3 separate regions of the Homo sapiens genome follow, and all the other regions are linked to region 1. The links come from fine-mapping of genetic effects on gene expression. A gene starts in region 1. Each other region holds a variant in brackets. All regions are shown on one strand. Distances are between the middles of the regions. Region 1 holds the start of CAMLG (calcium modulating ligand). Region 2 overlaps SAR1B (secretion associated Ras related GTPase 1B). Region 3 overlaps JADE2 (jade family PHD finger 2).

Evidence for each region. PIP is the estimated chance that this variant, and not a neighbour inherited with it, causes the effect. A credible set is the group of variants that fine-mapping cannot tell apart.
Region 2: its variant is the best candidate, but not a certain one, in a credible set for the expression of CAMLG in whole blood (INTERVAL, PIP 0.63).
Region 3: its variant is the best candidate, but not a certain one, in a credible set for the expression of CAMLG in prostate (GTEx, PIP 0.53).

The regions. Positions count from the first base shown.
Region 1 is chr5:134,737,209-134,739,967 of GRCh38, reverse strand. CAMLG (calcium modulating ligand) reads right to left here and starts at 1,420. Exons shown (of 4, transcript NM_001745.4): 1 at 1,176-1,420. The coding sequence starts at 1,347. RefSeq lists an enhancer at 1,783-1,832.
Region 2 is chr5:134,625,271-134,628,029 of GRCh38, reverse strand. The region is part of intron 1 of SAR1B (secretion associated Ras related GTPase 1B); the gene reads left to right. Among named protein-coding and RNA genes, the nearest start is that of SAR1B, 6.2 kb to the left of the region's middle. RefSeq lists a cis regulatory region at 1,501-1,514 and an enhancer at 1,436-1,580. The variant TTTTTTTTTTTTG/G (reference allele first, on the strand shown) is at 1,720.
Region 3 is chr5:134,582,820-134,585,578 of GRCh38, reverse strand. JADE2 (jade family PHD finger 2) reads right to left here. Exons shown (of 12, transcript NM_001388185.1): 12 at 2,352-2,759. Among named protein-coding and RNA genes, the nearest start is that of SAR1B, 49 kb to the left of the region's middle. The variant C/A (reference allele first, on the strand shown) is at 1,063.

The DNA of each region.
Region 1 (2,759 bases):
GGAGTTTGAGGCTGCAGTAAGCTATGATCATGCCACTGCACTCCAGCCTGGCCTACAGAGGGAGACCCTGTCTCAAAAAATAAAACAACCTTTAAAGACATAAAATTTTCAAAGCAAAAGAACAAAATATAGAAAGTACCTCAGGTAAGATCATAAATAATGCTTTAAGAATAAATAGCCCGATAGAAAAATGTTTCTTCTATTGTTCTAGAAGAATTTGAAATGGTTTTCTTACCTCTCATTTGAACTGCCTAAAAGTTCAGAGCTATACACCTAAAGCCTTACAGAACAAAAGTCACAAAGATATAAGGAGCTTGCGACCAGTGACTAAAGGCCAATTACTAAAGGAAACACTGGAAACTTAGATAACACTAGGGCGCGCTAATTGCTCAATTATACTCACGTGAAATAAATTTTTTTTAAAGAAAATCATTGGACATGTGTTTGGGGGAGGAAGGAGGCGCTCTCCTTAGAAATGCAGCTCCAGACATCAATCACAACAATATCCCCTCATGAGGAGAGGAAACTCTCAGGTGTGCACTTCGCACTTGCTGGGTCTCTGAAGAATGCTCACTCTCACTTTTCCCACCTTTTCTAGCCGGCCCGTAGGTGACAGTGTTGACGGCACTGAACACAAACACTAGGATATGAGCACAAGAGTCCCTGATACACGTAGGATGAACTAGCGGGCAGTTCAGTAAAGACAGGCTGATGTGGGCGGACAGGAGTTACACAGCAAAAGGCAAAAGAAGGTAGACGCTAGAGAAGGCACTGTAAGGAAAAGCACTTGGAACCTTAAGAAGGAAAGCCATCTTCCTAAGGGGAGCAGTAGACATGACAGTCTGGGGATACAACGTGCGCCCTTCAAGAAAGGCGAGGAGTGGCTAAGGAAAAAAGGGGCTGTTCAACGTAACTGGGAAGAGGGAGTGAGAGCTCTGCAGGCAGGGTGGGGAAAATCTCACGGCGAGGCCCCGGGAAAATTGAGGGGAGCGACTAGGAACATCCTGGGGTTCAGGGATGAGAACTTGGGATATCACCGAAGGGGCGGGACAGAGAGGAAATCAAAGAGCAAGGCTTGGTCAAAAAGGTCAGAGGAGTGGAGGTGGGAGAGGGAAGAATGACCCTGAAGATTCAAGGTGATGGGCGGGAGACTGAGGGGAAATCGAGGCTCTTACCCGCGCCGCTCCCGGGCCTGTGAAAGCCCATGATCCGGTTGATGCGCTGTTCCGAGTTCATGAGCAGCTTTCTCCGACGCAGCTCCGCCCGACGCTGGGAAGCCGACAGACCTGAGCCCGCTGGGACCCCCGGCCTCTCCCCGCCGTCGGTAGCGACGGCCATCGACTCCATCCTCCCGTCCACAGTCTGGGAGGGGTGGCAGTGGCGGTGATGTTGGCCGCCGCTGCGAGGGCGATGACTAGAGGCCGGGCCGCAGGGCGCGCGTCCCCTTCCCACTATAGACCCGCCCCCGAGCGCGGTCCCGGAGCCTGTGAGCTAAGCACTCACGCACCGCCCCACGCGACCAAGCGCGAGGCTCTGGCCGCCATCTTGAGTGAGGGCAGCGCTGGACGCCCTCGTGCCTCCCCAACTCTTCTGGCCCTCACCCAACAGCCCCCTCTGCTGTTCACTCGGAGGTGAAGAAAACCAGCACCCAGGGCCGGGAGTGGTGGCTCACGCCTGTAATCCTAGCACTTTGGAAGGCCGAGGCGGGCGGATCACGAGGTCACGATTTCGAGAGTAGCCTGGCCAACATGGTGACCCCCTCCCCCCTCCCCCCACCCGTCTCTACTAAAAATACAAAAACTTAGCCGGGCGGGGTGGCGCGCGCCTGTAATCCCAGCTACTCGGGAGGCTGAGGCAGGAGAATCTCTTGGACCCAGGAGGCGGAGGTTGCAGTGAGCCGAGATCGCGCCACTGTTCTCCAGCCTGGGCTACAGAGCGAGACTCTGTCTCGAGAAAAAAAAAAAGAAAGAAAAGAAAACCGGGAGTGGGAAAGGGATGGCAGTAAGTAGGTCAGCCTAGATTTGGTGCCAGGAAGCAAAATGGAGGTTGCAGCGGCAGTCGCTTGTTTACAGACCCGCGGCCTCGCCTGTAGGCAATGGGAATACGTAACCCTGGGAGCCGCACTTAAAGGGAGCCTTACGCTGGGATTTGTTCTTGGTGCCTGTTCCTCATCCTTAACTTCTCTACGGCAAAGTATACGGCTGATGTGTTCCTAGGCTTTCCTCGCGTTTTGTGCGTTTTTATTCAAATTAGAATTTCCCATTGAAACCTTTCGTGCACATTCTATCTAAATTGCCAACACTCCCCATTCCCCTTCACCTTGTTTTTTCTCCTTGTCGTTCATGACCACCTCGCATGCTAAAGATGCTCCAGCCTGGGCGACAGAACGAGACTCCGTCTCAAAAAAAAAAAAGGAAAAGAAAAGAAAAAAACAAAAAGGCCGGGAGCGGTGGCTCACGTCTGTAATCCTAACTTTGGGAGGCCGAGGCAGGCGGATCACCTGAGGTCAGGAGTTCGAGACCAGCCTGGCCAATATGGCAAAACCCCGTCTCTACTAAAAATACAAAAATTAGCCTGACCTGGTGGCATGCACCTGTAATCCCAGCTACTTGGGAGGCTGAGGCAGGAGAATCGCTTGAACCTGGGAGGCAGAAATTGCAGTGAGCCGAGATCATGCCACTGCACTCCAGCCTGGGCGACAGAGGGAGACTCCGTCTCAAAAATACATATATAAAAGAAATAAATAAAATAAAATCAGA
Region 2 (2,759 bases), 110 kb after region 1:
GTAGCTGGGATTATAGGCATGCACCACCATGCCCGGCTAATTTTGTATTTTTAGTAGAGATGGGGTTTCTCCATGTTGGTCAGGCTGGTCTCGAACTCCCGAACTCAGGTGATCTGCCCGCCTCGGCCTCCCAAAGTGCTGGGATTACAGGCGTGAGCCACTGCTCCCGGCCCTTAATGTGTGGTTTTATTTATTTATTTATTTATTTATTTATTTATTTATTTATTTTTTGGGATGGAGTCTCGCTCTGTCGCCCAGGCTGGAGTGCAGTGGCGCAATCTCGGCTCACTGCAAGCTCTGCCTCCTGGTTTCACGCCATTCTCCTGCCTCAGCCTCCCGAGCAGCTGGGACTACAGGCGTCCACTACCACGCCCGGCTAATTTTTCTGTATTTTTGGTAGAGACGGGGTTTCACCGTGTTAGTCAGGATGGTCTCGATCTCCTGACCTCGTGATCCGCCCGCCTCGGCCTCCCAAAGTGCTGGGATTACAGGCGTGAGCCACCACGCCCGGCCGGTTTTAAAAAGTAAATGAGCCAGGCATAGTGGCCTATGCCTGTAGCCCCCAGGTACTCAGGAGGTTGAGGTGGGAGGATTGCTTGAGTCCCCGAGATTGAGGTTGCAGTGAGCAGAGACGGCGCTCCCTGGGTGAGAGGGAGACTCTGTCAAAAAAATAAAAAGTGGCGGGGCGCGGTGGCTCACGCCTGTAATCCCAACACTTTGGGAGGCCAAGGAGGGCGGATTACGAGGTCAGGAGATCGAGACCATCCTGGCTAACATGGTGAAACCCCGTCGCTACTAAAAATATAAAAAATTAGCCAGGCGTGGTGGCAGGCTCCTGTAGTCCCAGCTACTCGGGAGGCTGAGGCAGGAGAATGGCGTGAACCTGGGAGGTGGAGCTTACAGTGAGAGGAGATCGCGCCAGTGCACTCCATCCTGGGCGACAGGCGAGACTCTGTCTCAAAAAAAAAAGTAAATGGTTTTGTGTAATTACTCATGTAAATCAGTTTTAAATATTAAATGCCATATAAGCTTTTTAAAATTTGCTTTTAAAATTTTTCTATAATAGCTTTTTTGAGATATAGTTGATATACCATAAAATCGACCTTTTAAAATTGTACATTAAGTGTTTTTAGTATAGTCACATTGTTGTGTAAACATCACCACTATCTAATTCCAGAACATGTGATCATCCCAAGAAGAAACCCAGTACCCATTAGCAATCATTCCCCATTTTTCCTTCCTTCAGTCTGACAACCACTAATATACTTACTCTATGGATTTATCTATCCAGGATATTTCATTTAAATGAGCCATCCATGTAGTTTAATGGAACAAGGCTTTAAGAAGTTACTTGTAATCTGAGATTCTGTTCCATTACATCCTTTGCACTGGTTTTCATGTTACTTGAGTAGATCACTTTTCTAATCTGCAGAGAGACTTTTCCTGTTTGGTATTGGTGCAATAAATAAATCTGCTGACGTGTGTATGTTTCCTTGTTCTTGACCTTTGCTCTTCACATGTCTTAATAGTGTGTTCATGGTGTTGTGTAACCTGTTTTCTGGGCTCAGGTATCTGTTTGCAGCTAAGTAACTTTTATTCTTAGTTGGGCATTTTTACTTCTACTTAAAATAACAATAAAAAAACAGTTAATTCTGTTTCTAATTACTCCTAGTTTGTTTTAAGGTTCCTAGAAACCACATTTTTTTTTTTTTTTTTTTT[TTTTTTTTTTTTG/G]AGGCAGAGTCTTGCTCTGTGGCCCAGGCTGTGGTGCAGTGGCTCGATCTCGGCTCAGTGCAACCTCTGCCTCCTGGGTTCAAGTGATTCCCCTGCCTCAGCCTCCTGGGTAGCTGGGATTACAGGTGTGCACCACCACACCCAGCTAATTTTTGTATTTTTAGTAGAGATGGGGTTTTGCCACGTTGGCCAGGCTGATCTTGAACTCCTGACCTCAGGTGATCCACCCGCCTCAGCCTCCCAAAGTCCTGGGATTACAGGTGTGAGCCATTGTGCCTGGCTGAAACCACAATTTTAAAGAAATATATATATTATTATCTTCCAAAGCAGAGTTTGTGTCTTCTTAGATTATCTCTCTTGGGACAAATTTTACAACAGCAAATTGGTACCATCCTTATGCAAAAAATCCTTTTTCTGTCAAGGCTTTTCACCATTCTTTAGCTCTCACCTACCAACAATCATCTTCAGTGAGGACTTTGCCACTTGATTCACAGTCTGTATCAGTGCCCTCCAGTCTTCCAGGTGATTACACTGCCTGTCAATGTGGACAGTGTACCCTCTAGCCTGGCTTCCAGTATCTGTCACCTCCATTTTTCTTTATCGTCCATGCCAGAGCCAGGCCTTGGAGTTTGCCACCACCCAACCCTGAACTTCTCTTGAATTCTTGAACCCCCTATATTCTCTTCCACTTTGCTGGCACAATTCTGGCACTCCTTTCACCTCTCTCACCCTTTTCTGTTTTTGGCTTAGAGACTTTTTCTACCCTATTTTCCCAATTCTGTTCTGTTGAGAAGCCTGCCTTTGATCACCGCTCCATCTCTGTATACTACCTTTCTTTACCTTTGTCCACTCAACTTGAACTTCTGATCAGATCCCTACAGCCCTCTCACTAGTACTCTCAAAATCCTGTTCCCCTTGTCCTTTTTCATTTCTATTCTGGATGTTCCTAATCTCTAGTCACTCCATGTTGAGCACTGCTGGTGGAGGGTGGAAGGTTGGAAATCAGCACAGATTGGCACTGCTGTGAA
Region 3 (2,759 bases), 150 kb after region 1:
CCATGCCCAGCCAATTAAAATTTTTTTTTTTGTAGAGATGGGGTCTTGCCATGTTGTCTAGGCTGGTCTCGAACTCCTGGGTTCAAGCAATCCTCCTGCCTCGGCCTTCCAAAGTGCTGGGATTACAGGCATTAGCCACCATACCTGGCCCTGTTTTTCACTTTTTAAAAATGGGGCTACTAGAATTTCAAATGTGACTTGCACTATATTTCTAAAGAACAGACCAACATGTACCCTGAATCCCCCTGCCCTACATTTATCAGCTGGGTTAGGTTCACAGGTGAGGTTTTATTTATTTATTTTGTTTGTTTTTATTTTTGTTTTTTTTAAAGACAGACTCTTGCGCTGTCTCCCAGGCTGGAGTGCAGTGGCATGATCTTGGCTCACTGCAACCTCTGCCTCCCGGGTTCAAGCAATTCTCCTGCCTCAACCTCCCTTTAGTCCCTGTAGCTGGGATTACAGGTGTGCATCCCCACACCTGGCTAATTTTTTGTGTTTTTAGTAGAGATGAGGTTTCACCAGGTTGGCCAGGATGGTCTCAAACTCCTGACCTCAAATGATCCACCTGTCTTGGCCTCCCAAAGTGCTGGCATTACAGGTATAAGCCACCTGGCCCAGCCGACACAGGTGTGGTTTTAGAGTGAGGGGCAAGCCTGAGTCATTCTTCTGGATCACTGTGGTCCTGCTTTGGGCTGGCTGCAGGAGGAGGGAGAAGCTGTGGTGCCAAGTCCACGGCAGCTGGGCCATGGGGCTGACAGTTTCTTACCATGGCCAGGTGGGCTGGCCACCCAGATACCCCCTCAGCCCCAGGGCTGATTTCCTGCCAGCATCCCATGCTGATTCCACAGTTGAGGACGCTGAGCTCTTCCCATTCACAGCTGAGCTGCTGGAGCTGGGGCTGAGAGAACATCCACAGCCTGTTTTTCCAGGTTCCCAGGTGCCCTAACAGGGAGACCTCCCTCCACGGGCATTTTGGGCACACACACACTCCACCCCAAATTTACTTCCAATACCTTGTGCATTGTGGACTCAGAACATTGGATCTGGAGGCACCCTTGGGAA[C/A]CTACCGTCTACTGCTCTGGAGAGGAAATGGGTCAATTCTCTGTGGCAAACAACTAAGTCAGTGGCCCCAGAAGCTAAGATGCTTTGAGTCTTAATGTAACCTCTGTCCCTCACAGCCTTGTTCTGAGCCCTCAGAGGAGGTTCAAGACCCTCCCGATATAGCTTGATCCATCTTTGCATAGGCCAAACCCTCTATGAGGAATGCCCGTCATCCCTTTCTCCGATGCAGCTTCCCTTGGGCTAGCAACTATTTTTCATTAGGTCTCCAATGTCTGGAGGTTCTAGGGGGACAGGGGCCTGGTGACATGCACAGTATACAACCCAGCACACTGGCAGTGAGGTGTCCGGTCAAGACTACTTGTTGAATGAATCAATGAATCAATGAATTAATGGTGTCACTTCCTCAGAGAAACCCTTCCTGAACCCCTTCACCCCTAGACCAGCCCAGGCCTCCATGAAAACTCCCAGTTCCCTCACTGCCTGTGTGAGCCACCCCAAGCAAGGACAGCAGCTATATTCCCCACACTCTTTTCAGAGCCTGGCTCAGGGTAGGTGCTCAGAAAATCATGAATGAAAAACAAACTCAAGCAAAAATCTTCACTGACCTAGGGACACTCCCTGGAGGCTCCTCCCAAACTTTCCTACGGTCCCAGACAGGTGGTTGTAGCAGGTGGGGAGTGCAGCAGTCCTGCCTTGGATGCAGAGCTTTACCTCTTAGCACATCTTCGACTTTAGGTGCATCCCTCATCCTCTCAATTCCAGGGGAACATATTGAAGATCAAATGAAATACTGCCCTGAGGCTAGGGGCGGCTTACGCCTGTAGTCCCAGGACTTCAGGAGGCCGAGGAAGACGGATCACTTGGGCCCAGGAGTTTGAGACCAGCCTGGGCAACATGGGAAAACCCTGTCTCTACAAAAATTACCAAAATCAGCCAGGCATGGTGGCATGCACCTGTAGTCACAGCTACACGGAAGGCTGAGGTGGGAAGACAGCTTGAGCGCGGGATGTCAAGGCTGCAGTGAATCAAGATTGCAGCCTGGGTGACAGAGTGAAATCCTGTCTCAAATAATAATAATAATAATAATAATGAAAAATATAAATACTGCTCTGAAATTATAGCCCTTGGTGTGCACTGAACATCTTTATTATGATTCCTTAGGAGGTGGCAGCTGATCCCTTGGAAAACTCAGGGACCCCGTGGTTTTGCTGAGCCCATTGTCGGGTGTGTGTGTGGGACTCCCAGGGTTCCCTACCCCATCCAATGCAATGGAGCCTCACACCAGCCAGCACAGAAAACACTGCTTTATTAACTGCGTTTGCCAACACACGAGGAGTGCAAAGGGCTCCCTATGACACAAGCCCTGGTGGGGCCGGGGTCTGGAAGCCCCCATGAGTGAGCAGGACAGGATGGGGCTGGGAACTATGCAGCAGCGGCAACACAGAATCATGCAGGGCACAGCGGGCACTGGCCACACCCAGGTGACCATACATTCTATTGCTCGTTAAGGGTTGCGCACATGGACAATGTACAAAAAGGAGAAATAGGTCTTTGCGTTAATGAAAAATACATTTTTTCTCTACAAAGGAATCTTTTCTAATACAAGAAAATAAATATTGCAACATAAGCCAAAAATAATTTAAAATTGCTCTTTTCAATATATTTTCAATATTTCTCTTGTATATTAACAAATGGCA